Homo sapiens: one gene and its partners. The protein of the gene in region 4 purifies or fractionates together with the protein of the main gene of each other region. This does not show direct contact. Each region holds a gene or a part of one and is shown on either strand. Other genes may lie near its edges.

Region 1 (7,742 bases), on a different chromosome or scaffold from region 4:
ATATAGCTATGGATATGTAAAACAACTGGAAAACAACTTGGCAGTTTCTTGTAAAATTAAATTTATAGACATACTTTATACAAGGCTTATACTGCATATAATGTATACTGTATACATTTCTCTATGGATCAATTCCCTGATTCCTTACCCCAACTCACACAAACCCCACCTCTGCCCAGTCCAAGCACTTTTATTTTTACCAAATATATTTTGGGGCATGCAGCCAACATGGGGATGGCATGAAGCCTGGAGTAAATATCCTACATACATGAATTAGTATATATAAATTTATTTCCTAGCTCTGTCCATTGAGGGGAGCGTAGAAGCACTGACACCCTAGTAACAATGAGAAGGTTAGTGCCTTGATCTTGATTTCTTTTCTTTTCTTCTTTTTGGTAGGGTGGGGGACAGGGTCTCACTCTGTTGTCCACACTGCAGTGCAGTGGCATGATCTTGGCTCACTGCAGCCTTGACCTCTTGGGCTCAGGCAATCCTCCCACCTCAGCCTCCTGAGTAGCTGGGACTATAGCTACTGTGCACATCACCACACCCAGCTAATTTTTGTAGAGATGGGTGTAATAGCCAAGGTTCTCTAGTGGAACAGAATTAATGGAATACATATATATATATATATATATATATATATATATATATATATATATATATATGAGTTTATTAAGTATGAACTCACATGATCACAAGGTCCCATAGGCTGTCTGCAGGCTAAGGAGCAAGGAGAGCCAGTCCGAGTTCCAAAACTGAAGAACTTGGATGCTCAGGGGCAGGAAGCGTTCAGCACGGGAGAAAGATATAGGGTGGGAGGCTAGGCTAGTCTAGCCTTTTCACATTTTTCTGCCTGCTTTATATTTGCTGGCAGCTGATTAGATGGTGCCCACCAGATTAAGGGTGGGCCTGTGTTCTCCAGCCCACTGACTCAAATGTTAATCTCTGTTGGCGACATCTTCACAGACACACCCAAGATCAATACTTTGCATCCTTCAATCCAATCAAGTTGACACTCAGTATTAACCATCACAACAGGGTTTTGCCCCATTGCCTAGGCTGGCCTCGAACTTCTGGGCTCAAATGATCTGCCTGCCTTCGCCTTCCAAAGTGCTGGGTTTACAGGTGTGAGCCATGCTACTGTGCCTGGTGGTCCTGGCCTTTGATTTCTAAATAGCTTTTTCCAATAAAAAGAAGAAGTGCTTAATAGTAAAATGACTGATTCTAGAGCTGGAGCAGGGAGAATACAAGCTAATTTAGTTGGTACTGCTATACCAATGCTGATTTCTTAGTTTTGACAAGTGGACCATGGTTATGTAAGATGTTAACATTAAGGAAACATTAGGGGAACCTGGGTGAGGTATATACAGGAGTGCTGTACTATCTTTGCAGCTCTTCTATAAATCTAAAATTATTCCAAAATAAAGAATCGTTTAAAACATGGGGGAGAAGAAAAAATGTTTTCTAGCTAATGGGAACTACGTGAGCGAAGCACAGAAATAAGAAAACCCCTGGTTTGTGACTGGGGAGCTAGCTGCTGGGATGGAGGGGAGAGCAGACAGAGAAAGAGGAGTTATTTAAGCCAACATATTCCAAGCATAAATTTTGATGCTTGGAAAGGCAGGATCAGACCATGTGGTCCTTATATGTATAGGGACCATATGATGCATCATCTGAACTGAAGCACGTTTGAGAATGAAAGGGCATGCTCAGAAGACAGGCGGCCAGGACAACAAGCATAAACTAGGGCTGTCCTAGCAAACTAAATATATGGTCACCCTGTGTATATGCAGGGGGCTTGGACTTGATTTTGAGAGCAGTGTTTTCCATTATGCATATTTAAAAGTTTTACAGGCAAGTTCCACCATCAAATACACTCATAAAATACTGGGTAAAAGAAATTTTTACTTGTTTCTTTCCTGAACCACTTCTCAGCGTCTTTAATTTACAAATATGCTCTGTGAATCTTCAAGAATGCAATATAATATGTTTCCCAAACATTTCTTTGTAGACCAATTCCCTGATTCCTTATTTCAACCCACACAATTCCCCAGCTCTCCCCAATCTAATTATTTTGGTTTTTTTTCTTAAGAAATACAGTTCAGGGAATGCTGCAATCATGGAAATGGCATGAAGCCTGGAGCAAAGTTCTCAGATTAGAGCTTCAAATATTCAGTGGTGGCTTTGACAATAATAAAGTTGAGAAGACCTGGAGATAGAAGATCCAACAAGGAGGCTATTGCAGTGGATCAGGATGTCAACCGTGAGGGACAGAGAGAAGAGGGCACATATGAACAACACTTAGGAGGTAAAATTAGAAACGAAAATACCAGTCATCAGGAGGTAAAATTAGAAACAAATATACCGGTCATCATGCTATAATGGCCCATGTAAGATTTCCACGGGATATCTGTTTATTACCTCCATGTTCAAAAGCTAGGGCAAAATCAATTCTGTGCTTGATATATGACTAGGCACTTGTGTGATCTTAAACAGAAAACAAGTAGACTGTAGAGAGACATGGAAGGTGCTTAACAATAAGGCACAACTGAACTAACTCTTGTTTATTAAGTATTAATTTAAGCTTCCTTTTAATCTAGCATAGATTTTTTAAACCAGTTGTGGTTTTCCCACTGTATTATAAATAAAAACAAACCTTCATAAGTCAACTTGTCCTTCTCACTTACCAATAAGTCCCTGTTTGCTCTATTTACCTTTATGCGTCTTTTACTTCTTTGGCTTTCCCAGAAGATCACATAGTGGTCATGTAAAAAATATTTTTAGTTCAGTAACTATTAAATGAACCAGCAATTATCTCCTTCTATTCCCTGGAATTGCTATCCCAGACACTGGAGATACAGCAGTGGACAGTTCTCCATCCTACATGAGAGATGTTACATAGGAGGTATTTATGGTATTTATATTAATAAGGACACCACAAGTGTGCAGATAACATTCCCCACTCAACAACTTCTGGTTTCCTTCAAAATCTCTCCAAGAAGGCCCAAATCTCGCAAATTACTATTTCTGAAAATCCAAATTACAAGCTTTCAGTCATAGGTAACTTCTGCACATGGAAATGATTTATTTTGGGAGATGTGACATTATCACTCATCAAATTAGGAGACTTTTAAAGCCCTACCACTTTCAAGACACCTGGCTGAATTTAACTTGGTAGCAGCCAGATTCACAGATGGAATACTGTGTCAGGAACTCTTAGTAATTCATTTATCTTAATACTTCTAAATTTTGCAAGTTTGTCTAGACTATAATTCTTTTTTTTCCCATTTGAATACCAAAGGATGAAATCTTATTCTAAGTTTTCAAAAGACCTGGAAGGAATCCACTCATAACATATTTTAAAACAAGGAATTGGAATGAGCCCAAGATGAGGGCTCAGACAGCTAAGTTTTGGGCCCAGCATAGTCAGTAACTATCAGGGTAACTTGAAGAGGCCACTTAATCTCAGGTTCTTCTGTAGTGCATTGTACCTTCCCTCCCCGGAGCCCAGAGTTCTATCAAAGGTAATATGAATGGGTATTTGGAAAGTGCACTAAACCTCACATGGATGTAAGATCCTTTCATGTGTTCCTTCAATGATTGAAATGTTTCTTCCTACGTTCACCAGCCACTTCCTAATTCTCAAGTACAATGCACTACTTTCAGTTCTTTATTTACTTGAACTTTGTGTAACAGGTGACATCATGGACAATTCCCTCCTTTTTTCCTTCATTCTCTAGTTTACCTTTTCCTGGTTTATTTCCTATCTTGTGGGTTACTCGTTTTCAGGGTTATTCTTTCTCTGTCCATCTCTCTTAAGCAGACAACATTCCACACTTAGTGTTGGTGAGTTCCAATCAGAATTCTATCCTGGGTTTTGTTTTTTTCCACCTAAGTGCGTCTGGACTTTTGATATCACCTATCCGGGTAATCATTTTAGAAAATAGTGTTGCCTTAATATAGGCAAAGGCTAAGCCAATCTATCTTCTAATTAATTTGGAGAGGGCTTTCTTTCATTTGTAGCAATTGATGCTTTTCATCTAACAATTACAATATATTTGCATATTTATCATTGGAACTGTCTCTGCTTGTTTTAAACCCTGTGAAAACTACGCCCTGCTTTTCAGGAATGCTTAGAATGACTTGTATGTACTAGGAAAACTTGTTTACAAGTGAGCACCCAGAGATGACTCTTCACTTATTCCTTCATTGTTCCTGCTAGGATTGTGTACTCGCCTTTGCATTTTTCGATAGAGCTGTCAACGCGATCTACTGCAGTTAAAGGTTAGCAAACAAGACAGGCAAGAGCTAATGGGGCGGGGTGAAGACCCGCGTGCAAGAAGGCTGGCTTCACCAGATAAAGAAGACAACTGTCCTCCATTCTGTCCTTTTTTGCACGCAGGCTAAGAGGCGTTCACCATCTCTACGTCAGGCTTCAAAGAACAGCTCCCTTGCAATTTTGCTGATACCCCCATTCCTTAGCTTGGAACCGGAGGGGCGGTGAGGGCCGCTGTCACTCAGCCCCGCGGGCCAATAGAAAAGGGGTGAACCCCGCCTTCTTCCTGAGTTGTGCTGCGGGCATGCGCACTGGGCGTCCCCACGCCACCGCCCATCAGCTGAGAATTGCAGCTGAGGGCTCCGGGGTAGGTGGGTGACGGCGGTCGGAGGTGTAGGAGGGAGCCGTGGAGGTCCAGGTAAGAGGACCCTGGGGAGGGGGCTCCCTGGCCGGGCGACAGGGAGGCGCGGTGCCCCTGCGGCTGCTGCGCCTTCTTGTTTGTGCGCGTGGTCAGGTGGCCGCCGCCCTGCGCTCTGCAGCAGGCACTCGGGAGGCTAGGAAGGGCGGGACTGCCCCAGCTCCCGGAGCGCCTGCGGCTCCCCACGCCCCCCGGCCGGGTGCAAGGGCGCGGCGCGTTCCGCATTCCGGGTGCGCGCGGCTGTGGTCAGGTGGGCCTACCCAGCCACGCACCCGCCGCGGTCCCCTGGGCAGAGCTCCGGAGGCGCACGGCTGGCGGAGCGCACCCCGGGGAGGGCGCCAGAGCCGGCTGGGGCCCAGCTCAGGAATCCAGACACGACCAAATGACCTCTTCCTCTTTTCAACTCACGGATTGAAAAACACACTAAACTTCCCGAATATAGAGGAACTGAAAAATGTATGGCTGTAGCAGGCGAACCGTGTATGTTTATTTATTCAGAGGATCGTAGTATTGTTTTTTTAATTTGGCTTGATGACTTTAACATACTTTGACATTCTTTGAGTATACACCTTTAATTAATTTACATAAAAACCTTTAAACGTACATAAAATATTTCTAGTATTTCCTCCACCTTGTTTTCTAGTTACTTTCTTTAAATTCAGACAAAGAAAAAAAGTTGCATTTCTGATCAAATGCTGTGTGTTTTTTCCCACAAATTTCTTACATTTGTTTGGCTCTTATCTGTATACGTTAATTTTTGTTTACCTCAGATCGTTGTATTCTGACTATAATTATATATAATATATAAAACTTGCCCAGAATCTGGAAGAAAAGAAAGTAATTATGAAATGCTGTGCTATTTAATAATGTTGGAAGTGGACATTTCTTCTGCAGGTTCTCTGAGCACACCTGGGCAGAGGCTGATAACGGTGTTAAACTGTGTTTTGTGTTGTGGACAGGCCTTATAGGCTACTTTGAGAAGTTGGCCTCAGACTCGTGACTAGTTAAGAATTATGCTCTTAACTTCACAGTTTCTGTAGAGGTTAATATGATACCATATTAACTGATTAACATCATAATTTTTCCTCAGATATGTTACTTATGTTGCTCTTGATAACAAAATCAATCCTTATTTTGGTTATGACCCCAAACTTTAAGTGCTGATGATTGAAAAGTAAATTATAGAAAATATTCACAGTAAGTCTGAGTGAAGTTTGCTGTGATTCCATTTAATTTGCAAGTTTCATGTGTGAAAGTATGAAAAAAACAATCCTCGGTATTGTGAACTAAAACCAAGTAGTACAAAAGGTCAGTGATGAAAGAGCTAAGGCCAAAGAATACAGTTAATGTAGTTTTTGCAGAGGATACTTATGTAGACAGAGCACCCTCACATTCCTTGAGCATTTACTATGCACCAGGCACTGTAGATTACACAGGATGACAAGGTCATCTCTCTCCTGTTTATATTCCAGAAGTAGCTCCTGTTTGTATTCCAGAGGTGTAGGGATAAATAATAAACAGTGATTAATTCGACTTTTGAGTATTGTGAAGCAGTAAGTTAGATTGACAAAGAGTGACCAGTGGTGAGTTCTCACTTTCATATCAGAGTGGTCACAAAGGTTTCTCTAGCATGTGATGAGGCCTTGCTGGGGAGAAGGAGCCAGTCACGTGGAGATCATGGGAAGAGCCTTCTAGAAATAGGAAATGGCACCCAGCAAAGGCCCAAGGCAGCAAGAAGCCTGGGACCTTCGGTATCTGAAAGAAGGCACTGGAATTTTATGTTTTGGAAATGGTAATATTTACCCTCACGCTGGGTGTGTGTTCTTAGGAGGTGGGTACATTCATTCATTCTACAAATGTTTGTTAAGCACTTGTGATGTAGCCAGGCAGTGAGAATAGTGCAGTCCACAAAACAGACAAAAAAATGCTCACCCCCCACCCCTCAGAACTTACTTGGGGTAGAGGGTATAGAGAAGTCCAGTTGTTTATGCTGATGCTAATGATTAAGAAAGTGAAATTGACTACTTCTTTGCCCAGGGTAGATTTATAGAGCATGAGATATATGCTAAATGGAAATCTTAAGGATTCTACAGTATATCGGATTTTAACTGGGAGTAGTGTTTGACACTTCAAGATTAAATTTTAACATTCCTTTTGTTCATTCCTTTGTGTTCTTTAGAAGCCGTCTTGAGAAGACTCTCATCTGAGTGTTGCACTTTGATTCTCCCTTCCTGTTTTTCTCTTTATAGTGTTTGTATATCTTCATAGAAAGATGATTATTGCAATGTGGAGATTAGCACTGTGCAATAGATCTTTCTGTGATAATGGAAGTGGTCTATGAATGAGCTGTCCAAGCTGCTGGCCACTAGCCACACAGAATTTTTGAACATTTGAAAGGTGTCTAGTGTGACTGAGGAACTGATTTTTTTCATTTAACTTAATTTTAATTAATTTTAATTTTTTAAAAACGAGAGCTACAATGTAATTTAAGTGATACACAATATAAAATGGTGTAAATTGTCACATGAAAAAATGAAATGTAGAGTAAAAGTGTAGTTTCTTACTGCAATCAGTTATCTTGTTAGCAGCTTAAAATAACCTGTAATAAGATTTTTTTGCTTTTATTATTTTAATCGACAGATAATGATTTACATATTTGTGGATACATGTGATACATCAGTAGATGTGTACAATGTGTAATGATCAAATCAGGGTAATTAGCATATCCATTACCTCAAACATTTAACATTTCTTTGTGTTAAGAGCATTCACAATTCATTCTTTCTTCTAAGTATTTGAAAATATGCAATAAATTGTAATTAATTGTAGTCACCTTTTAGGGGTATAGAACACTAGACTTCATTCCTCCTACCTAGCTGTATTTTGGTGTTAGTTAACCAACCTTTGGCTATCCCCTTCCCGCCATCCTTCTCTGCTTCTAGTAACCACTATAATTTTAACAGCCCATTTAGTTAGTGGCTAGTCTGTTAGTACAGGTCTAGGTAATGAATTATATAATTATTATTCTGAGCAATTAAATAGGAA
Region 2 (8,435 bases), on a different chromosome or scaffold from region 4:
TAATGAATCTGGATAGAGGATTTAAAAGCATTCAAAATCAAAACTAAAATAAACTAATATCATATTTATATAACACCAAGGCACTCTAAGCATGAAAAGCTTATGGTTAACTACATGATATCTGTATACTTCTTCTCCAAACTAATTGAGTTACATGCTTACAAGAGTCAATTTGCATTTGTACTCCAAAGTATTTATGCCTATTATACTTATAGAATATATTTAAATATGTAAACTAATGAAATACAAATAGAAAGTTATTTTCTATAAAAACTAAATTGATAAACATGAACAACAAACAAAAATTACTATAGAACTAGGCACAGGTAAGACAAACCTGTAAAACTTTGGAGAAAAAATTGTACAAAAATCTAGACTGACTGGGCATTCAAATTGCTTGAAAGGTGTCTTTAACTTCTTATTCCACTTTGAAGAAAATGAAACTGTAAACTGTAAACAATGCAACTTGTAACAAAGACAAAGCAGGTGTTCCAACCAGCAAATTCATGCTCAGATAAAAGGTCTTGGGCCTACTACCAAGACTGGTGAGTGAACATATACATTTGAGTCAAAATAAAATGACTAAAGTATATATTTGCCATTTTTAAATATGTACCACTGTAACTGACTTTTTAAATTAACTGGTCCAGTGGTCCCAATTTTAGGGGAAGAGAGTGCCTCTACCATTGTTTTAATTGAAAAACTGATATACATGGTAAAGATATTCCAATAGTACAAAACACTACACATCAAGAAAGTTTCCCTTCTGTATTAGTCTTCTAGGGCTGCTATAATGAAATACCATGGACTAGGTGGCTTAACTACAGAAATTTATTTTCTCACAGTCCTAGAGGCTAAAAGTCCAGGATCAAGGAGTCATCAGGGTTGGCTTATGGTGTGGCCTCTCTTTCTGGACTGCAAATGGCCATCTTCTGTGTTCTCATATGGCCTCTTCTCTGTGCCCATGCACTCAGACACTAGCCCTACAGGATTAGGGTTTTGCCTTTTTGATTTCATTTAACCTTAATTATTGTCCTAAAGGCCCTATCTCCAAATCTAGTCACACTGGAAGTTAAGACTTCAACATATGAATTTTGAGGGGACATAATTCAGTCCATAACACTTTCCATGCCAGATTCACAGTCCTCCTGGTGTGTGTGTGTGTGTGTGTGTGTGTGTGTGTGTGATGCTCAAATGGAAGTAGAGTCTACACACTATTTTGCACCTTACTTTTCTCACCTTATAGCATCATAGAGGTATTCCATGTCAGCACATATAGATCTATCTAGTTCATTTTAATGGCTGCATACTATTCTATTGAATGGCTAGACTATGACTCATTTCAGCAATTTCCTATTGCTGAACATTTAGAGTTTTTTTTTTCACTCTGTTACAAAAATCCTGTAACAGATATTTTTATAGAATACTTTTATATACAACCTGTATACCCATGGGATAAATTTTAGAAGTAAAATTATTAGATCAAAAAGAACTTCATATAAAATTTTGATACATATAATTACCATGAAATTTTTAAAAATGCACCAATTTTTATACTCTTACTGTTTAAGAATGCTTGTTCCTCCCACGCTGCTCCCATACCACACATACACACACCCAATATTGTAGTATCAAATTTTTTTTATTTTTGCTATTGAGCTAACACAAAAGATCAAACTGTCAAATCAGGCTCAAATCAGAGATTTTACTCAGTATCAAGCTTTACTAATAGTTTCAAGGATACCAGTAATCCCCAGGTCCTTTCTTCTTGCTTTGGATGCATCCTGGCCCAGGACAGTAGATGTGGTTTCTAAATCAAGTGTACAGTCACCCCACTTACACAGAAGGAGCCAAATCAGTTACAAAACACTTCCATTTTATGCTACGTTACATAACTTCCGCGGTATTTTCCAGTTAATCATACCCCTGAAATCCGCATTGATTCTTTTTTGTTTTGTGAGAGGGAGTCTCATTCTGTTGACCAGGATGGAGGGCGGTGGCGCGATCTCTGCTCACTGCAACCTCCGCATCTCCAGTGCAAGCTATTCTTCTGCCTCAGCCTCCTGAGTAGCTGGTGTTACAAGTGTACACCACCACACTCAGCTAATTTTTGTAGTTTTGGTAGAGACGGGGTTTTGCCATGTTGGCCAGGCTGGTAACTCCTGACCTCAAGTGATCCACCTGCCTCAGCCTCCCAAAGTGCTGGAATTACCACATCGATTCTTAATGTGTTTACCATAAACAATCCCAGCCCTGGGACATCCTGTTAGAGGAATTCCGTAAATATGGACTCTCTTGCTAGCAAATGCCATTAGTTTGTTTGCCAGGAGGTCTGTAATTAGTATATACTTTATATTTTATAAAAATCACATGCTTTTTTGCTTGCTTTAACCTTGCTTTCCTGAGAGTATTTCCCTACGAAGGGAGAGACTGGATTGCAGATCTTCTGCTCAACTCCTTCTTTCTCAGTCACTGATAGATGAAAAATGGTATTTCCTTGTTCACTTTTACATTTTAAGTAATGTTGAACATTTAGCAACAAAATATTGAAAGCTAGAAGGGAGATGAATCAAGATGCAATTGCCTTAGCAGACTTGAAAAGTAGGAATCCCAAGCAGGCCATGAAGCAACCTGATACACACAGTGAAACCCTGTATAAGGCTCAGGAATTGGAAACACCACGTAAAGCTGAAGAGAGCATGATGTGAGCTATAAATACAGGCGGAATGGTATAAAGTCTGTTTAAGAATGAATCAGATGCTGAGATTCCCTTTGCTATCCCATCAAAAACCCAGAGATTTAGTCCTGAAAGACAGCAAAACGCTGATTCTCTAGCTAGGAGGACAGCAGGCCCTCTTAAGGATGAAGGTGTCATGTTGAAAAAGGGGAAAAGAAAATTAGAGGACTAACATCTGAATAACTGAAGCTCACTAAAAAGAAAATGGAGGAAATAAGTAACTCAAGTTGCTTGGAGTTCTGACTCTAAGCTCAGTGCTATTATAATCTTTTAGGCTTACTGGTATATTTGATTCATGTTAACTGTAAAATGACATTTTCTAAGTTTCACAAATATTGGGGTTAGTCAAAGGGACTTTGTTCAGGTGATTAAGGGTGGGGCTTGCATTACCCCTCTCCTAAGCGATCATTCCAAAATGACTGGCAGGACTAAAGAATTATGTTTAAAAAACAAAAAAACCCAAAGAATGGATTATCTGTAAAAGCTATGCAATGACGTGCCTGTTAGAGCTCACTGACCACACCTTAAGTTGTCTAAGAGATGAGGCTATAACTAGCTAAACTCTAATTGGCTAAGGCACCAAAGCCAGAAAATAGCCCATAACATGCAAATATACAGACATAAAATCAACTGTAAGTGCTGGGCACAGCTGCTCATGCCTGTAATCCCAGCTACTTGGGAGGCAGAGGCAGGAAGATCACTTTAGCTCAGGAGTTCAGAGCTGCTGTGCGCTATGATTGTGTCACTGCACTCCAGCCTGGGGGAAGAAGTGAGACTTCATCTCAAAAAAAAAAAAAAGATCAGCTGTAGAAGAAAAAATAATGTCAGGGTTACCTGTGGAGTCTGGGGGTAGACCCACTATCACACCTAGACAGGGATACAAACCATGAGAGGCTTCTCTTCTAAGTGGGCCGTTTCAGTCCAAGTTGCTGACTTGGACAGCAACTTGGACTGAATAAACACAGGCAACTGAGTTTAGCATTAAGCTTTCAGAACCTTCAACTGACAACTCAACGGCTGTTTCTAAATCTCAGAACATTTAAATCAGAATCTAGGTAGCACGTGGGCACCTACGTAGTTTTAAAAGCTTTCCAAGTGATTCAACTCCAAGTGAATCAGAGTGGAGCATCGTTGCCTTAGTCATGGCATCTTTCAAATTCGTTAGTACATTTTTACATAAAAATAAACATCAAACAAAAGAAGAACAACTTTTTGGTAAGAGGGTGTCTATTCTTTCCTTTCCTTTAGTGTCCGCAGATCTTTCCTCCTGCTGTTTTCTTGTCTACTCTTGTTCTTGAACACCCCCTCTTATTTTTATGTCTTTAGAAAGTGCCTGGCACAGTATTTCAGACAGTTAAAATACTGTATCAACAAAGGACCCATAGATACTGTATTAATTTTAAAAGATGTGTAGTGAATATGATTCAATGAGTAAAATAATCCAGCTGGGGCGTGGGAGGAACGGATAATAAAACAAATAAGAGAACGGAAAAACAAAATTAGGAATTGTTTCTGGTAGACAGCTACTGCGGGCGTGGAGATCTAAACATGATACCAAATTGGGCGGAGGGGGAGGGAGTGAGGAAGGAATGGGCAGAGTGGCGGAATGGCCTGGCGAGGGCGATTTCCTGAAGGCTTTCAGGTTACAACTAAGGGATACCGGGAAAAGAACACCGAGCCCTCGTCCCGTATCTATCTAAACTAGCCGTGTTAACTTTAAGTCAATCTCCTCTCTGAACCAGATATTCCTCCTATCTAAAGGGAGGAGCCTGGCCTTAACATCTCTTTCCAAGTCTAGCTCTAATTCTGTAAACAGGGGATCAAACAGATCTCCTTTCTTCAGAAAAGGCCCCAGACGAACCCGAAGCAGGTCCTCGAGCTGCGAGCCACTCTCCACTTGCCACTCAACGTAGTCAGCCAGAGGGACGGATGTGCCACCAAGCACCACCTTCTTTCTAACGCCTCATCACCCCAGCCACGCACTCCGGCGCGGCGCCCAGTCCCGAGCGGTTCTCGGAAGTTTCCCACTCCTCCCCTAATCGCCCTCCACGCACGCCGGATCACGACCGGAACGTGGACAACCAGTGGTTGTTCCTCCCCTAAAGCACAGCATAAATTTGGAGAGATGCATCTAAACTGCGTGTGGGTTCGGGCTCTTTTAGGTGAATAGGGCTCGGCGGATCGACTTCCTCGATTATCTCCGTGCCCTGGACCCGCCCCCTCCGCCTGGCGCCAGGCCGCCGAGCGCCGATCGGCTCGATGAGCGGAGGCGCTGCTGCGGCGCTGCGGCCGACGCCGGGTCCGCACCAACTGTCTCCCCCTCCCAGCTTCTTACCTCGGCTTCCTACTCCTTCCCCCGCCCGCCCAGCACCGCCAGCCCGGGAGAGCTGCCGGGAGTTCCCCGGGAGCCTCAGGTACTGGCGCTGGCCTGTTCGCAGCGGGAGGGGCTGGTGTGAGGAGGAAGGAAACGAAGAAGACGCCCCTGCCTTGCCGCCCCCCGACGTCCTAGTCGGGCTGGTCGGCGGGCCTCGGGGATCTAGGAAGGGACCCCGGAGTGGGAAAAGGTTGGGGCCGGGGGTGCCGTGAGGAAGGAAGACGAGGACAGGGGTATGCGGACGAGGAGCAGTTGAGGGAGAGAAGAATTGGAATTGAGGGGTACTCTGGGGTGATGGGAAGAGAACAGTACCATGGATGGGGAAGGTTTGTTAAGAGTGGGATGTAGTGAGGAATTCCAGGGGGTACAATGGGGCAGGAAGGGCCAGCGTTAGGAGCAGATATATCGTGGGACGTGGCCTGGTGTGACAGATTGGGTGTGGGGGGTGAACGGAGCTGCCTGAAATTGTGTATTTAAAGGGCCCGGGGGAAAGAGCGCCAACCCTGCTGTGTTTATAATGACCGGAAGGTGGGGGTGAATCGTTACACTTGACAGGTTTTGCAAATAATATCTCCGGTCTGTGTCCATCCAAGTCACTTTATTTCTGTGAAACTGCATCAAGCAAGAAGGCTGATGACAGACAAGGAAGACGAATCAGAAAGAGAATGGAGGCTGGGAAAAGGAGAGCCTTTGCCCAGATTCAAAGCTATTGACTAGATAACGTACTACTTACAAAAACGCACACATAGACATTTAAGTATATGCTGATGTATAAGAAGCATACGGTGATGTGACTCATTTGAGTGAATTGTATAGTGGTGGTCTATCCTCAATGTGGAAGTACATGATGGCTCTCTTATTTACATGTATACCTAGTCACAAACAGCTGAATTCACATGTCTTTTTTTGTAGGAGAAATCTTAGGCAGACTATATCCTAGTCTACTTTCTGAGCATGATTTATTTCTACTAGTTGTTTGATACACATATCAGTTACTAATAATCAGTTGCAAATAACATCAAAGTTCATCAAGGTAGCTAATTAATCTGCCTACTGCTTTGCTGATGGGCTATTTGTTGCACATGGTTTCTTGGGATTAAGAGACCTGAATATGGTGTTTGCTCATCCTTAAGATTGTAGTTTTACTGTATGTCTTATAAAGGCATTATATAAGTCTGCCCGTTGTTTGCTTTGGGATGTTGAGGCAGCCTCATTGCAGGGGTTAAAATCTAAATACAGATAATAGTTAAAAGCACAAGTTCTTCAGTAATTTGCCTTGTCATCTGTTTTTCCATGCATTCTGTTACATTTCTGCATGAATGAAGTATTCTGACATCAAAGTATGAGGAATAAAAGGGCCAGATGTATGTGACAGAAATATTGTGGAACCAAGAACTCAAGAGCTGTTACTCAGGCAGCAAGAATTTGGTTTTTGTTACAAGTGAATAATTTCTGATTTGGAAGCATTTCTTATCAAAGAAAAGTGTGTCCTTTGGTTTTGACAAGCAGCTGACTTAAAACATTACTTTTATTTGGTTCGTGAAGCCAGATCCTGGGATTATTCTTTTTTAAGTGTATATCATTAACAAACAAACTGATGTCTAACTATACCTAATTTAAAGGTCTAAGTGTTTCTTCTTATGGAAAAGGAAGCAGGACTATTGGGTTGTTAGCAGGAAGTGAGTCTTTCTAGAACAGAATTCTGTAAACCTGATGGGCAACTAATTGAACAAATGATTAAAACTGATAATGCACAGCCATTGATTAATTTAGGCCTGTATCTCTGCTGTTTCAATGAATGTAGTGACTAACGTTATCGTTACTAAACTTTAGTTTTCTCCTAGTTTCTTGGTGCCTACTTTAAAGAAGCATCATAAAGAGTAAAAGAAAATGCATGTGTATCACTGAGCACCGTGCCTAGCACATAGTAAAACATTCAGTATTTCTGAGCTATCCTGAATTGATGGGTATTCATCTACCATCTAGTCAAAAATACTGAAAATTCATTATTTGCATAGAAGAACTTTTTCGCAAAAAAAAATTTTAGTATGTTGCATACACAAGCATTTTCCTGGAAAGTCACAATGCATATTAGCATATAACAGGATGTGAGTCATTCTGTAGCAAAGAAAACTAGCTTTGTTTAATCCAGTTGTTTTGATAGAAAAAAATTGAGTTTCTCCTATTCTCTCTCAACACAGACCCCCAAAAGATTTCTCCTCACAAGCAAGGAGGAAATTCTGCAGCAGATTCTCCAGCTGGGTGTCCTCTAATTCAATTCTGATACTGTATACCTAGAGATAGCATCAGATCCTGCAGGTTGAGGGCTTAATCCTACAAGATTCCCCCCACTTCAGGTGCCAATCACAAGTTCCAGGTTGTTTTACCTGTGTTTCCAACTGACTGGCTATAAATCAGAGTTCCCACAATCCCTTCCTTGTGTTCAGTTTATTTGCTAGAGTGGCTTACAGAATTAAGAGAAACACTTTGTTTACTGGTTTATTATAAAGGATAGAGATCAACAGCCAGATGGAAGAGGTGCATAGGGCAAGGGGTACAGAGCTTCTGTGCCCTCTCCAGGTGTGCCACCGTCCAGGAACTCTCTACTTGTTCAGCTTTTGGGAAGCTCTCTGAACCCTGTCCTTTTTGGGTTTTATGGAGTCTTCCTTAGTAGGCATGATTGATTACATCATTGGCTATTAGAAATCAGTTCAACCTTGAGCCCTCCTCCCCTTCCAGGAAGCTAGGGGGTGGGGCTGTAAAGTCCCAGTCTTCTAATCATGCCTAGGTTTTTCTGTGACCAGCCTCCATCTGGAATCTATCTGGGGGCTAAGCTACCAGTCATCTTATTAGCATACACAAGACACATCACTGCAGCGATTCCAAGGATATGTCAGGAAATGGGGATTAAGACCAAATGAGTATATTTTGTAAATCACGATATCACACCAGTACTTACCAAACTTACCCCTTTTCATGGAGTACCAATGGGACATTATAGTTTGCAGAATATTTTTGCATGTATTATCCAATTTGACCGTCCCAACTCTGCAGAAGCCTGAAAATCAGTATTTTACACCTGAGGAAACTGAATCATTGCTTAAGCAACCAACTAAAAGTGAGAGAAATAGGCATGTTCTCCTGTCTTCTGACTCCAACTTTAAATTGTAAAGCATTTAATGTCTCAGTGAGACGTCCTCCCTCTACTCTCTGCTCTTTCATTTTATAAAAATCTTAAATCACTCATATCCTACACATGTTCTCTTAGGGCAATTACATCCATTTTCTCATAATTTTAACTATTTCTTAGGTGTTGAGGTCTAG
Region 3 (7,628 bases), on a different chromosome or scaffold from region 4:
TTAGCTGGGTGTGGTGGCACGCACCTGTAATCCCAGCTACTCAGGAGGTCAAGGCATGAGAATCGCTTGAACCCAGGAGGCAGTGGAGGTTGCAGTTAGCTGAGATGGCACCACTGCACTCCAGCCTGGGTGAAAGAGTGAGACTCTGTCTCAAAAAAAAGAGAAAGGGATCTGTAAAAAATAAGAAAGGGATCTGGATGGGCATAACTATGAGACAACACCCCCAAGACAGAGTTCTAGAATTAAGTACAAATGCTTAAGCTTTAAACGCCATACATACCACTGGTCATATGAGATACTTTTGCAAGTTTCTTCATCACATTGTCCAGCCGGGACTGAGTGCTCTCCAATTCGTGAGAGAAATCTTCCAACATACTAGAGAGAAGCAGACACAGAAGGTCGCTGGTAAGCACAAAGCCTTGGCAGTGCACTTGCACTGGGTTAAAAGGACCAGGCCTCCATTTTAGCAAACAAAATAGGCAACACTGGGTTTCAGGACCTCACTCTGTTATCCAAAATCCTTGGGACAAGATAGGATTTTGATTTTGGAATTCTCAGGATTAAAAAAAGCCTAAATTACATATCCTTTGTATTAGTCGACACCACTAGGAGGACACCACCAGGAGGGTCTGGGGCAGTCCCCGTAATCAGATACTTAATATTTCTGCAGAGAAAACTATGAGGAATCACAGTTGGAGTCAGTTCAGGTAAGGTTTTTCTGTAACATGAGCTTGCGGCAAATTTAAAGAAAAAAAAAACAACGAGATTTCTTTAGAGCTTCCTAGATTTCAGAACTGCAAGACTATAGACCTGTCTATACAATAACACAAACTCAGTGGCAGTGCAATGTGGTAGAAACAATGCTATCTGAGGCAGACAACCAGGCTTTGCCACTTGTTTACATTGCTACCTTCGACAACATACTCTATAACTCTTTGGGACTGTTTCCTCACCTGTAAAATAGGGCAATCCTATCAGCTCAACTTCCCTCACAGGGCTCTTGTGAGAACCAGGTAATAAACAAAAGCACTTTATGTCAATATGAGTTAAGGAATGTACTTTAATAAAATAACCTCCTATAAGGCACTACGTGCTTTATTATAAACCCAGAAGGCCTCAGGACTAACATCCCTGATGGGGTGTGTGACAGTGTGTCTGTGCATGCACACGCGCATTTCCCCATCTGTCCTCACAGAGAAACCAGTATTTCCCACTAGGAAAACTGACTCCAGCAGGCTTACACTATTTGCTGTCCAATGTGCAGCTGGGAAAGAAAACCCCAAAATACTATTTCAGCAGTGCCTATTTCATAAGTCACTAAATATTCCAGACTTTTCAACTTTTGATTAGTAAATGATTATTCTGAGGCTAGAATGTAATATGCCAATTAGTACTAACAGTCTTACTAAAAAGGCTGTATTAACTCTGACAGCATCAATGGCAGTTAGAAACTCCTGGTCTTGATCTGTGCCCACAATAGACACCTGACAGCCTTGCAGGATTCAGGGCAACCAACTCTTCATTAAATCAACTGTTACATATATGTTGACAACTAAAATAAGTCTTTGTCCCTTACCTAAATTTTCAAATTAAAAAATATTTAACTCATTTTAGATCCTGGCAGCATCTTGGCGCTGCAGCTGGCAGGCCTATCCAGGCAGGGCCAAACTCTAAAAAGCAAGAGCTACCTTTCTGCGCTAGGTATGACTTTTCATACTGAAGACAAAACAGGCACATCATCAGGCACATCATCCGACCTTCAGTCCATGGACACTCACCAACCAAGTTGCTAGCCCAAATCTATCTCAGTACCATCCAACAAAAATATGAGTCACATATGCCATTTTACATTTTCTAGTAGCCATGTTTGTAAAAATTTCAAAAGAAACAGGTGAAATTAATTCTGTTGTATTTAGTTTAATATAGCCAAAATACTGTAATTTCAACATGTAATATAAAAATTATTAATAAGCTATTTTATATTTTTCTATATGAAGTCTTCAAAATCCAGTAAGCATTTTACCTCTGGAGCACATCTCAATTCAGACTGGCCACATAACACTTACTCAACAGCCACATGTGGCTAGTAGCTATTATACTGGATGGCACAGGTCTAAGTCCAAATCCCATGCTTTTTCCCATTTATCTGTTATTTCTATTTTTTTAGAGACAGGGTCTCCTCTGTCACCCAGGTTGGAGTACAGTGGTGCCATCATAGCTCACTGCAGCCTCAAACACCTGGGCTCAAACAATCCTCCCACCTCAGCCTCCTTCCCTAGTACTTGGGACTACAGGTGTGAACCACCATGCCCAGCGGTTTCATGCCCTTAAAAACAAACCCCTTTACTATTGTTCTAGTGAGCTGTGGAGAGGGAGTGGAGGTAGGGGTGTGTCAATGCACCATCTTTAACTGGAAGTCCCTCTGACTCTATTACCCACTGCCCAGCCAGGCTGCCTCATCAACAGAGAAGCTCAGGCCATTAGTCCTTTCCCCTCCTCAAACTGAACTTTAGGGTCAGGACCCATTTTAGATAGACATGAAACAGATTCTGGCTACTCCAGCTTCCTACCTGGTCTCCCTACCTGACTCCACTGCAGCACATCATCTAAATCACACCTGATCACACCATCACTCCTCACCTCACCTCCACTGGTCTCTCATTATGCTGAGAATAAGTAGTCGTACCTCCTTACCATGCTGACAAGGCCTTCCCTGGTTTGTTCTCTGCCTCCAGACACATGGAACCTCTCTGCTCCATGCACGTGTGCACCTCTCCATCTTCACAGGTGCATTTTCTTCCTCCTGGTCTACACACCCCACACCACCTGCCTCCACACCAACTCTCACCTCACCTGGCTAGCATCCACACATCCTTCAGATTTCAGTTAAACCCCTCTTCCTCAGGGACCTTGGGCTAAGTCAGGGCTCTCCAGGCAGCATGCACTGGCCCCATCACAGGGGCCCTCCCACTTCACTGCCATCACCTAATGACCCCTCGCCACTTACCCAATATCCGTTCTACCCTGCAAGCGGCAAACTCTTTGGCAGAGATGGGTTGTCTTGTCTGCTCTGTTCCCTTCTATATCCCTTGGCTTCCAGAAGGCCCGGTGTAGAACACGGGCCCACTAAGAATTCATAATCAATCAATGTGTCATGATAAACGTAATATCGAGACAGGAAAGTTTCTGAAATATCCTGGTGGACTGTTTTTTCATTTTTCTCTTTCAAAAGATTTACAAAATGATGTGGCAGCATTTAAGAATGCAGTTTTTGCCATCGAACTTCTGGGTGCAAAAGGGATTGTTCATAAGGAAAAACAAACTGAGGTTATGTTTTGTTTTTATTTATTTTTCTGAGAGGAAAGAGTTTTTATTAACTGGCGTTAAATTTGTAAGTTTTTTTTAAAAAAAAAAAACAAAGTTACAATAATTTAAGATTCAAAGCAAAACGTGTCTGTTCAATATAGCAGGAGAGTCATGGGATGATAAAGTCAGCTCATGTCCTATCCTCTCTGGAACAAAAATTCCCACAGGTTACAGAGGCTTCTCTGTTTCATATTCCCATTCATAACTATACTTCGAGTATCTGCTCAGAGACATCTGTGTCTGTTTTTGGAGGTGTTTAAAAATAATAACAACTTCACCTAAAGCCTGTAGTAAAATTTACGAAGTAGAATTGCTTCTTTTGGGGAGGCTAATCTGTAAAACAGAATAAAAATGCAGCTATGAATAAAATAGCTTTTGATTTTACCAGCCACGTAGCTGCCAGGCTTTTTAGGGGTGTCATAGGATGGCTCTGCCCCTCAATTTCACTGAAGCGAGAGGGGTGTCTCAATACTCACACTGCCTGTTCCTCCAGCTCCCCTCCGATGCGCTGGGACATGTTCTTCAGCACCCCGATGCTGCCAGAGACCAGCTCCAACTGCTCATCCTGCTGTTCCACGATCAACTGGTGCCAGAGAAATGGGAAATAAGCAATTAAAATCCATCTTACCTGGTTCCAAGCCCAGCACTCTAGCAGCTGCTAGTTTCTTTGCCAACTTGGGACAATTCACATTCAGAAGCAAAGCCCAGAAATCAAAGGACCAGACCGTTGCCTCTGAGAACACACTGCTCAAAAGGCTGGATTGTTAAGCTACTGATATCTCCTGCTGATCCAACTTGTGAACAGTCAGCGGGGCTTGAAACCACCAAGAGAGATTTACTCTGGTTGGCTGACGTCCAATAATGGAGCAGACAATGGTTGAAAGCACACGTGCAGATGACCATTGAGACATGGGGATGTTTGGGAGGAGGAAGCCCATTGCCAAGATCAAGGTCTCAATCCACAACAGACTGCCACAGCTTAAATACAAGAGAGTCTGGCAAATCTCTGGATGTGGGGAAACTATGCAGTCTTTCCTCTCTCTTCAAGGACAAACGAAAGGATTCCCTGTGGCAATAAGTTACCTCAAGGACAACTACTGACTGACAAATATTTACTTTTAGTTGTGTTGCATTCTTCTCACTTTCTATAGAAAAAAAATTTCCTGGGTTTAATAGCAATTTAAGTAGACAACTGGTTAAGCAGACATACTAATGTAAAGAACAAAAGAACATATAAACTACATGTATACATAAAACACAATATTTAAGAATCAATAGTTTCAATGGGTACATGCTCCTCAAATCCCCAGACACATTATCATTAGCTTGCTTTTATTAATACAGCTACATATCAAAGGCATCAACAGACATAATCAATTTCATTTTCCTTCTACCCCTTAACCTACACAAAAGCAGTCATCTTTACATATAACAAAACCAACCAATAGGCCGGGCGCGGTGGCTCATGCCTGTAATCCTAGTACTTTGGGAGGCTGAGTCAGGTGGATTGCCTGAGCTCAAGAGTTCGAGACCAGCCTGAGAAACAAGGTGAAACCCCGTCTCTACTAAAATACAAAAAAAAAATTAGCTGGGCGTGGTGGCGTGCACCTGTAGTCCCAGCTACTCAGGAGGCTGAGGCAGGAGAACTGCTTGAACTCGGGAGGCGGAGGTTGCCGTGAGCCGAGATGGTGCCACTGCACTCCAGCCTGGGTGACAGAGTGAGACTCCGTCTCACAAAAAAAAAAAAAAAAAAGAAACCAATCAATAATTTTCGAAGAAAAAAATGAGAGATCTTTCTGAAAGTGTCTTTGCTGAGATGGACAAAGGTCTGTTTTTTCTAAGAGAACTAACTGAGCTTGGTTCTTTATTTTTTTAGAGAAAGGGTCTTGCTCTGTCACCCAGGCTAGAATGCAATGGCATGATCGAAGCTCACTGTAGCCTTGAACTCCTGGGCTCAAGGATCCTCCAGCCTCAGCCTCCTCAGTAGCTAGGACTAAAGGTGTGAGCCACCACGCCTGGCTGAGCTTGGTTCTCTTGAAGCAGTCACACTGTGAAGATTTTGAAACCCTTTACATATGCAATTATTAAACACAATCAACACAGGACAAGCTCTGGCTTACCCTCCTTGTCACTAAGCCACAAGACCCCATGGCTGGCAAAGGAACTAAGGGGGTGTCTTGTTTCCCACTGGCCCGTCCTAAGTCTGGGGTCCTTGGGGTACCTGCTGCTGTGCCTGCTGCTCCTCAATGAAATGAGAATTGGCTCTCTGGAGCTCTCGGTCCAGACGCCCATATTTATCTGTTGTTCCAGTGCTCCAGTTCTGGCTGCCACTGTCTCCCAGCAGTGCCTGTGTGAGAAGAACAACCAGAGGAGTCAGGAGAAACAAACAATTACTATCTCTGAACAAGTGATGCATCAAGAGTGATATAAAGAGTTTTCACATTTCTTGTCTATTTTCCCCTGGGCAAGGCTTTTATGTAGTGGTGTAGGTTGGTGCCTGGGTGGTACTATTTAAGGAATTCCAGGAAGGGCCCTCTATGTCTTTAAGCTCTCCCAATAGGCCTCACAATGGGCTTTGTCCCCTTAAAGTGCAAATAAACGTCTGCTAAATCAACAAACACCCATCTATATACTGTGTTATAATTGAAAAGCATTCAATCTCTTGTAAAAGAGCTCTTCCTGGTACCTGTGGAACTTCAGCAACCCATAGGTTCCAGTCAACCTGATTCCGAAGATCTAGAGTACTTTTTTAAAAAAAGTGTGACCCAGGGGAAGTTGTGGGTTTTTTTGGTGGGGGGAAAGGGAGAGTTCCCTGGAATGACAAGAAGGTAAGCCATAGCCCTTCACACACAAAGGCACAAGAACCATCAATGTCTGTTAAGTTTAACCCATGAATAGAATCCAGGGTCCTTCAGGCTTTCCAGATGACAACTGGGGGTTACTTTACAGGCAGGTATGACCACAAGGAATGCCTGACCCTGGCAACCGAGGCAAGGGCTGCCCTAAAGTCAGAGTTCTCCACCAGGGCTCCCAGACACAAGGGTCGGGTTTCCCAAGTATGAATTCAAGGAAGTTTGCAGCCATAAATGGGTATGTCTTCCTCACATGAAGAAGACAGGCAGGAATGTGAGAGTTCCATCTCAGCAGTTGGTTCTGACCAGATCCCCACAAGCCTTCCTGACTGGTCAAAGTAACTGCTCACACCAGCCCCGCAGGCAAGAGCCAGAAGACGCTAGCAACTAAGACTCTTTTTCCTTGTAGAGTTGCCAAATTTTCCTATCGGGTAATTTAAAAAAAATCTCAGGCACTATTAAAAGCCTGCCTGGTTACTTGGTTCTGTCTGAAAACCCTTCCAACAGCCCCATGACCTTCCTCCATACTGACACTGACCTCTTCTCAGACTGCGAGGGGTGAACTCCATCAAATGGCCAGACTTCAGGGGCTAGGATCAGGGAAGCTCAGTTATTAGAAGCTTTTCTTACAAGAGCTTCCAGGGGCCCAGAGCTTCAGTCCAGCTGGATGGTGACTGTCTCTGGTGTAAAGCAGATCCAAGGCTTTTTGTGGGTGGCTCTGCCCTGACCTGGTCTTAGGGCTATCAAGACTGAAAAGATCCTGCTCATTATGATCCACACTCTAAGGACCTCTATGGAAGACATGAGGAAATAGTGACAATTTTTTTAGGGTCAGAAAAATGCTATAATGCATCACTGGCCTAAGGACAGAGAACTGGGACACCACCAGGGCCTTGTGTGCTCCTGAGGTCACAGGGCTATTTTTCCTACGTTTTCCATGGTGTACACTTAGGTAGAGCTAAGTATAGGGCAAATCATCCACGTTTTATTGTGAAATAGCTTAAAGTTCATCAGTCTGATCCCAAATGTTTGTGATAATAGGATAGAGATTGAGAGAGGGCCCAAGGACTGGAAGATGCACCTGTGTGTGGGTGCCAGAGCAGGGGTGCTGGTGAGGCAAGGAGCAGCACAGAGCCTGGCACCTGGCACAACGTGGCAAGGCCCATGCCTGCTGGAGTGCTTAGAGAGCCCTGATCCTGCTATTCCTTGAAAATTTGCAACTTGACATTTCACTCATAGCCTAAAACAAAATTCCAAGCCATAACTAGATAGGCAATATATAAATACATACATGTATATATACTTTATATAAAATATATTTAAATTTATATATATATATTTATAAATATATAAATATAAATTTTATTTACGTTAGCCCAACTATACTATCTAGAGAATAAAACATTCAAA
Region 4 (7,628 bases):
TTTGTAGAGATGGGGTTTTGCCATGTTGCCCAGGCTTGTCTCAAACTCCTGGGCTCACGCAATCCACCCACTTGGGCCTCCCAAAGTGCTGGGATTACAGGCGTGAGCCACCGCACCTGGCCTGATCATAATTCTTAAAAACGCAGTAGTTGCCCTCTTAATAATGACTTGTGCTTGCCCCTTTTTAAATCTATTTCCAATTGATGTATAGAAAAAGATGAAAAATATATCCATGTAGTTATGAATTTCAGATGTATGTCTGTAGATGAACAGACATTAATATATATAACCATGGCAAAAATAGTTTGATGACAAGTAATTATAATCTCTCTCTCTGGCCATCATTGGCGAGTGCAGTGTTGAGCTAAAAGTGACCCAGAGGAGGTGAACTATAATTTACTTGAGTTAAGAAGGATAAAAATTGGAGCAAACTTTCCAGCCAAAGCAGTTAATTCCCCCAACATAGTAACTTACTTAAATTCAAGTAGAGTGGGTAGATCTATTGAAATGAACTTTACTCTGCTGTGCATGTTACAATGTATTAAAGTATTGCTTCCAAAGAGAACAGAAGAGTGAACATTTAAAAATTTTATTTTAAGAAAGAAATCTGATTACTCTGTGATATTTTTTAAACAATAAAGAGATTTTGCTCTTAAAGTGTTTGAATCTTAACTAATTTTAGTAATTGAACTGAGATGGGTGAGTTCTTTCTTAATACCCTATGGCACTATATTTGAACATTGTTTTTTTAATTATTATGGTTCTGTGGGAAAGTAAGGAAAAGGGATGAGCAGAAACTATACAGTTAGTACTTTATTGTGAAGTTCCTTTTCCTCTAGTGATGGGAGTGAATTCTTAAGTGGGGAATGTTTTCCTCTGGTGCAAAGATTCTGTTACACGAAATAGGCTTCCTGAAGAATTTTAAAGTAGTCTTTTTGCAATTAGTTGCTTACTTTACCATTCACAGAGAGGGAATGATCTGTTGTGAATCCTGTCACTTTATGGCTGTCCTCAGAATTGTACCAAGAAAGTATTACAGCAAAATGATTCAGATTCAGACATGACATCAGATCTGTTTAGAACCCTAGTTCTGCTACTTACTAGATGTGCAGTCATGGACAATTGCTTGGCCTTTCTAGGCCTGTCTCCTCCATCGGTAGAATGGGGGTGAGAGAGTAATAATTTCAACCTTATAATGTAAAAATCAGTGAAATAAAACATGTAACACACTAGCACCCTTCTTACACAGAGAAAACACGTGATATACTAGCCATTAATGATATTACTGCTGCTGCTGAAGACAACAGTTGGTAAGATTAGCTAGGACCCCGCTCTTCAGACTTTGTCATGTTAATTGAACTCTTAAATCTTACACTTCAATTCTTGCTTCCTTTCTGTTCCTAGACTAGAATTAGGTAAATTTCTCTTGATGAACACATTTGAAAGGAGGTAAGTGATTAGGGCCTTTTGGATATGAATTTGGAACTGGGCTTTGAACTCAGGATCCCAAGGGGGGCAGTCGGAGGAGAGAAGTGAAAGTGGTGTCGGACAAGGCAGGTGTCCTTTCTGGAAGGAAATGCCTGAGTCTAGTGGATTGGTTATGCCAAGCCCTGGAGGATTGTCTAGACCATCTAGACTTAGCCACGTGTAGATGAAGGCATAAACATACTTCTGTGATTCTCTCTTGCCTTTGCAAGGTGGTTGCAGTGAGATAATTCAGAAAAGTTGGCTTTTGTTCATGAATATTGTGGTTTGCTTAAAATATATTTGGCTTTAGAGCTGTAATATCTACGTGTAGCTATTGAGCACCTGAAATGTGGCTGTTGCTACATTGTGAAATGATAATATTTTAGATATATGCAATTACGTATTATTGAAATTAAAAACATTATTAAAACTAATTTCACTTGTTTCTCTTAAAAGTTTTTTATTTTTGAAAACTTTAAAAAATACTGCTACAAGAAAATTTAAAATTGCATGTGTGACTTGCATTATATTTCTGTTGCTCTAGAGGGTTACAGTTGAAGGGATGGTTCCAGTCCTGATTCAGGAACTCACTGCTACAATAGTTTGTTCCTTGTTAGGATTCAGGCTACCTCAAAATCTGCTTCATGAGCTGCTGGGCAAGGTCCAGCTTTTTCAATTGAGCATACAGGGAAGATAGTCTTTAGCAGTTACTGATGGCCCAGTTATGTCTCATAAAAAATTTAAGCATTTAGGGCCGGGCGCGGTGGCTCACACTGTAATCTCAGCACTTTGGGAGGCCAAGGCGGGCAGATCACGAGCTCAGGAAATCGAGACCATCCTGGCCAACATGGAGAAACCCCGTCTCTACTAGAAATACAAAAATTAGCTGGGTGTAGTGGCACGTGCCTCTAATCCTAGCTACTCAGGAGGCTGAGGCAGGAGAATTACTTGAACCAGGGAGTCAGAGGTTGCAGTGAGCCAAGATTGCGCCACTGCACTCCAGCCTAGTGACACAGTGAGACTCTGTCTCAAAAAAAAAAAAAAAAATTAAGCTTTTATGGGGTTGTATTCATCTTTGAATAATATACATTCATATAAACAATTGTGTGTGTGTATGCATCTATAGATCTATATATCTGTATGTTGTCTATATATTGGTCAATTTAGTCAACCTAAGTAATGGCTTCAGTCTTTTGTTTTTGTTTTTTTTTTTTAAATAAACTTTTTATTTTAGAACAGTCTGAAATTTACAGAAAAATCACAAAGATAGTACGGAGAATCCCATATACCCCATGCCCAGTTTTCTCTGTGATTAACATCATGTTAATATGGTACATTTGTTACAGCTAGTGAGCCCATATTGATACATTATTATTAACTAAAGGTCATACTTTATTCAGATTTCGTTTTGTTCTGTTTGTTCTTTTTACCTAATGTCCTTTAACTATTCCAGGATCCAATCTGGGACACTGTAAAACATTTAGTACTCATGGATTTTTAGGCCCCTCATGGCTATGACAGTTTCTCAAACTGTCCTTGTTTCTGATGACTTTACAGTTTAGAAGAGTACTGGTCAGATATTTTCTAGAAGGTTCCCTCAACTGGGATTTGCTCAATGTTTTTCTCATGATTAGATTGGAGTTCTGGGTTTTGGGGAGGAGGACCACAGAAGTAAAGCATCATTTTCACCACATACCAAGAATACATACTGTCAACATGACTTATCACTACTGATGTTAACCTTTATCACGTGGCTGAGGTAGTGTTTGCCAGGTTTCTCCACTGTAAAGTTACTGTTTCCCTCCCTTTTCCATACTATTTGGAAGAAAATCATATATGCATAGCCTATACTTAAGGAGTGGAGAGTTACACTCTACCTCCTTGAAGCCAAGTAATTACGTGAATTATTTGTAATTCTTTTATGTAAGAGAGATTTATCTATTCATTTATTTACTTATTCAGTCATTTACATCAGTATGGACTCATAGATACCTATTTTATCCTTTGTGTTATATTCCAATACTACTTTATTTTCATGTTGCTCAAATTGTTTTAGCGTTGACCATTGGGAGCCTTTTTTTTAATTTGGCTTCTGTGTCCTTTTGGTATACCCCCATCATTTTGGCTTTTTTCTTTTCTTTTTTTTAAGGACTATATTGCTTTCTGATAGTATAAGATACTCCAGGATCATCTTCTCTATTTCCTGTTTCAGTGCTAGAATCAGCCCTTTCTCTGAGGAATCCTGTTTCCTTTAATTAAAGAAGGGTATTAGAAACCAAGATCTGGACAGTAGGTGTGCACATTACTCCCGGGGTGTTGTTGCCTCTGGAACCTCTCAGCTGACAAAGCAAGGAAATTCACATGTATATACTAAGCCATGTATATGAACATATCTACAAGCATTTGCATATGTAATCATTTGTATATATAGTATGTTAAACACAAGTTCATACTAGTATCTCCAGCTCTAATCCATTATCAGATGGATCATTCTGTAATTGCTTTATTTCAACACTGACCATTCTATACCATGTTACACAGGGTAGCATCAGTAATATACCCATTTAAAAATTATCTGTTCCTCTCTTAGTGGTTTGACCCTACATTTCTAAGTACATACATAATTTCTGCTGCTAGTTTTATTTTAACATATCTACATTGCACAAAGACAGGTACAAGTAACTGAATTCAAGTGAGCCTTGACACTTTAATGAGGGTGTTCTGTGCTGATTAAGCACTTCTGTAAATATCAAGAATTATACTATGCAAAGACTTGTTTGTACGTCAGCACTAAGAACTTCTATTGAGTAGGAAATGAGAGGCCAAGATGGGAGGATCACTTGAGCCCAGGAGCTCAAGATCAGCCTGGGCAACATAGTGAAGCCCCATCTCTACAAAATAAAATTGAATTTAAAACTAGCTGGGCATAGTGGCACGCACCTGTCATCCCAGCTACTCAGGAGGCTGAGATGGGAGGACACCTTGAACCCAGGAGTTTGAGGTTACAGTGAGCTATGATCATGCCACTGCACTCTAGCCTGGGTGACAGAGCGAGATCTTGTCTCTAAATGAAAAAGAAAACTAATTAAAAATGTATTGAGTAGGAAAGAAAAGATCATACATACTATGCTAAGACTTATGTGTATGTACATCAGCACTTATCAAGCTTATAGACCAAAAAAAAAAAAAAAAGTGGGAGACTGTTTATATATTAAATAGTATATTTTATATAATACATATAGCAGTTACGAGCTCAGTTCAGGACAACAGACCCACCCCATTAGAGTTCCAACTCTGCTATTTATTAGTTGTTGAACTTTCAGGAAATAATTTAGTATCTCTGATCTTATTTAATGGCTTGAGAAAGGGATAGTAATAATACCTCAAAAAGGTTGTTTTAAGGATTGACTATAACAATGTTAAACACAGAGCACCATGTACATTAATGATAGCCCTTAGTTACAAAGGTCTGAATCCTAGGTACATGTTGTTTGAAAGGGGATGTCATTTGGGGTGGGCAGAATGAATCTCTTTTGGGAATTACATGTAAATGTTGCCAGGTTACCAAAACTTCGTGTTGGTAGGTATTTCCAAGGTCATCTAGTTCAGTTCCCTCCCCTTCCCTCCTCCCCTCCTCCCCTCCCCTCCTCCCCTCACCTCCCCCCTCCCCTCCCCTCCCCCCTCCCCTCACCTCCCCTCCCCTCCTCCCCTCCCCTCCCCTCCCCTCCCCTCCCCTCCTCCCCTCCCCTCCCCCTCCCCTCCCCTCCTCCACTCCCCTCCGCTCCTCCTTCCCTCCTTCCCCCCTTCCCCCTTCCCCCTTCCCCCTTCCCTTCTTCCCTTCTTCCCTCCTTCCCTCCTTCCCCCCTTTCCCCCTTCCCCCCTTCCCCCTTCCCTTCTTCCCTCCTTCCCTCCTTCCCTCCTTCCCTCCTTCCCTCCTTCCTTCCTCCCTCCCTCCCTCCTTCTCTCCTTCCTTTGTTCCTTTCCTTCCTTTGTTCCTTCCCTTCACTTCCCTTTCCTTCCTTCCTTCCTTCTCTGCTCCCTCCCTTCCTCCCGCCCTCCTTCTCACCTTGCTTTGTTCTTTCCCTCCTTCCTTTGTTCCTTCCCTCCTTCTCCCCTCCCTCCCTTCCTCCCTTCCTTCCTTCCTTCCTTCCTTCCTCATACTTTACCCCTAAATCATCACTTTTGAGATTTGCCTTCTTAAAAACATGAGGAACACTATAAGGACCAATCAAAGAATGTCTCAGTTCCATCATTATTTCTGACAGCACCATCACAAAATGAATTTTATGAAAAGAAAATGATCTAATTGTGTTAACTCCACCTCTATTCCAATTTAATTATTTTTTTCGTGAAGGGAAATTTGTCATTTCAAATGGGAAGATTTGCCCCAGTCCTCACTAAAATGAGCTGTTTTTCCCCCTCAGTTTCTCTGTGAGTAATAAGTATGTTGCTGCGTGCTAAGACTGACTCATTTATTCTGTAAGCACTTAGTGGCCCCTACCATGTACAGCTCTCTATGCTAAATACAGAGTTTGGACACGATTTGTCAAGAGTAGTCTCTGCCTTCAAGGAGCCGGCAATGAGCCTGAAGAGGAAACTGCAGGCCAGGTGCAGTGGCTCACACCTGTAATCCCAGCACTTTGGGAGGCCGAGGCAGGTGGATCACTTGAGGTCAGGAGTTTGAGATGACCCTGACCAACATGGTGAAACCTCATTCTACTAATATAATACAAAAATTAGCTGTGTGTGGTGGCGCATGCCTGTAGTCCTAGCTACTCGGGAGGCTGCAGCAGGAGAACCACTTGAACCTGGGAGGTGGAGGTTGCCGTGAGCCAAGATTGCACCACTGCACTCCAGGCTGGGTGACAAAGTGAGAGTCCATCTCAAAAAAAAAAAAAAAAAAAAGAGGAAACTGTAGAACCTAATTTTTAATGACCGTTGTACCCCCTAGAGCCGAGCATAGAACTCTAGGAATTCAAAGGAAATGAGGTATGTCTCAGGACCTCGCCTAGAAGGATAGGTGGGGTTTGGACAGACAGAAACAAGCAAAGACTATATTATAAGAGGTTGCAATAAATGGATGCAGTGGGCATCTGTTGCACCCAGCAGCTTTCATTCTATCTACTCAATTTCCTATTGAGGAACTACTTAAACCCCCTTATTCCAGTCTTGATAGAACTGACAGGCTGCCCTGCCCTCTGTAGGTCAAGAGGTGAACATATTACCTAAGCAAGGACATTTATAGAATTTTTGCCAGGAATTTGATCAGAATGAACCAAGGAAAGAGAATAGTTAGAGCCGCTCAAGACTTTGCTTTAGCAGAGACTGTAAGTTCCTATTTCCTTGGTATCCTGAGCTACTCCTCATACTTGTCTTTCCCAAGCTGGGTGGCTCATTTTTGTCCATTGATCCTATGAGCCACCCCACATTATTCTAACAAATTATCTTTTTTGAATTAGTTTAGCCAGAATCACTTCTGTCGCATTCAGCCAAAGAACCCTAAATGGTAGCTTAACAAAGATTTAGAGAAGAAAAAAACAAGATTTGTTTGGGTAGCAATGAACAGTCTGTCTGTAGACTGCATACTAGAAACCTTGTAGTTGGAAATAAAGTTGGAAAGGATGCTCGGCTCTGAAATGTCGAGGACCTTAACTGCTAAGCTCAACTGACCCACCAAAGCCAAATTTTAGGAAGATTAAATGGGAGAGGGGGCAGGGAGACCAAGGTGGTTAGTAGCATAGCTTCTTTTGCAAATTCTTGCTGTGTCCTGCATTATGTATTTAACTTACTTTCATTTTTTGAAAACTGATTGTGTATGCCAAGCTCAGTATAGTGTAGGACTATAAAGATGACTGAGACATGGTTCTTGTCTTCCCAGAGCCTCTAAGTTGAAAGGTTGTTCATGTGAGGGATAAATCATTAGGATTACATAAGAGTTATAGATATTTTATGTACAAGGGGGTGATTAACTCTTATGTTGGGTTAGGAAAGCCTTCAAAGAAGTGATGATTTCTGAAGAGAGTTTTGAATAGAGGTTTGCCAGGTGGGCCTGGTGGAGATGGGCATTGGGATTAAAGGATTGAAGGCCTGGAAATATATCAGCGTTAGAGATAAAGATTTAGGATCATAAATACATAATATGATAGTTTTAAAATGGATGA

The links.
Region 1: the proteins of VTI1A (region 4) and STX7 purify together in Homo sapiens (affinity purification with mass spectrometry; 4 studies listed by BioGRID and IntAct, with this or other methods). This does not show direct contact.
Region 2: the proteins of VTI1A (region 4) and VAMP4 purify together in Homo sapiens (affinity purification with mass spectrometry; 5 studies listed by BioGRID and IntAct, with this or other methods). This does not show direct contact.
Region 3: the proteins of VTI1A (region 4) and STX6 purify together in Homo sapiens (affinity purification with mass spectrometry; 5 studies listed by BioGRID and IntAct, with this or other methods). This does not show direct contact.

Annotation. Positions count from the first base shown.
Region 1 is NC_000006.12:132,509,962-132,517,703, reverse strand, and holds the start of STX7 (syntaxin-7), read left to right. Parts: upstream 1-4,587; 5' UTR 4,588-4,697; intron 4,698-4,920; exon of another isoform or gene 4,921-5,177; intron 5,178-7,742. UniProt on the Homo sapiens protein: May be involved in protein trafficking from the plasma membrane to the early endosome (EE) as well as in homotypic fusion of endocytic organelles. Mediates the endocytic trafficking from early endosomes to late endosomes and lysosomes.
Region 2 is NC_000001.11:171,738,626-171,747,060, reverse strand, and holds the start of VAMP4 (vesicle-associated membrane protein 4), read left to right. Parts: upstream 1-4,995; 5' UTR 4,996-5,151; intron 5,152-8,435. UniProt on the Homo sapiens protein: Involved in the pathway that functions to remove an inhibitor (probably synaptotagmin-4) of calcium-triggered exocytosis during the maturation of secretory granules.
Region 3 is NC_000001.11:180,984,397-180,992,024, forward strand, and holds part of STX6 (syntaxin-6), read right to left. Parts: intron 5,714-7,628; coding exon 5,588-5,713; intron 3,950-5,587; coding exon 3,843-3,949; intron 376-3,842; coding exon 281-375; intron 1-280. UniProt on the Homo sapiens protein: SNARE promoting movement of transport vesicles to target membranes. Targets endosomes to the trans-Golgi network, and may therefore function in retrograde trafficking.
Region 4 is NC_000010.11:112,450,070-112,457,697, forward strand, and holds part of VTI1A (vesicle transport through interaction with t-SNAREs homolog 1A), read left to right. Parts: exon of another isoform or gene 1-657; intron 658-7,628. UniProt on the Homo sapiens protein: V-SNARE that mediates vesicle transport pathways through interactions with t-SNAREs on the target membrane. These interactions are proposed to mediate aspects of the specificity of vesicle trafficking and to promote fusion of the lipid bilayers.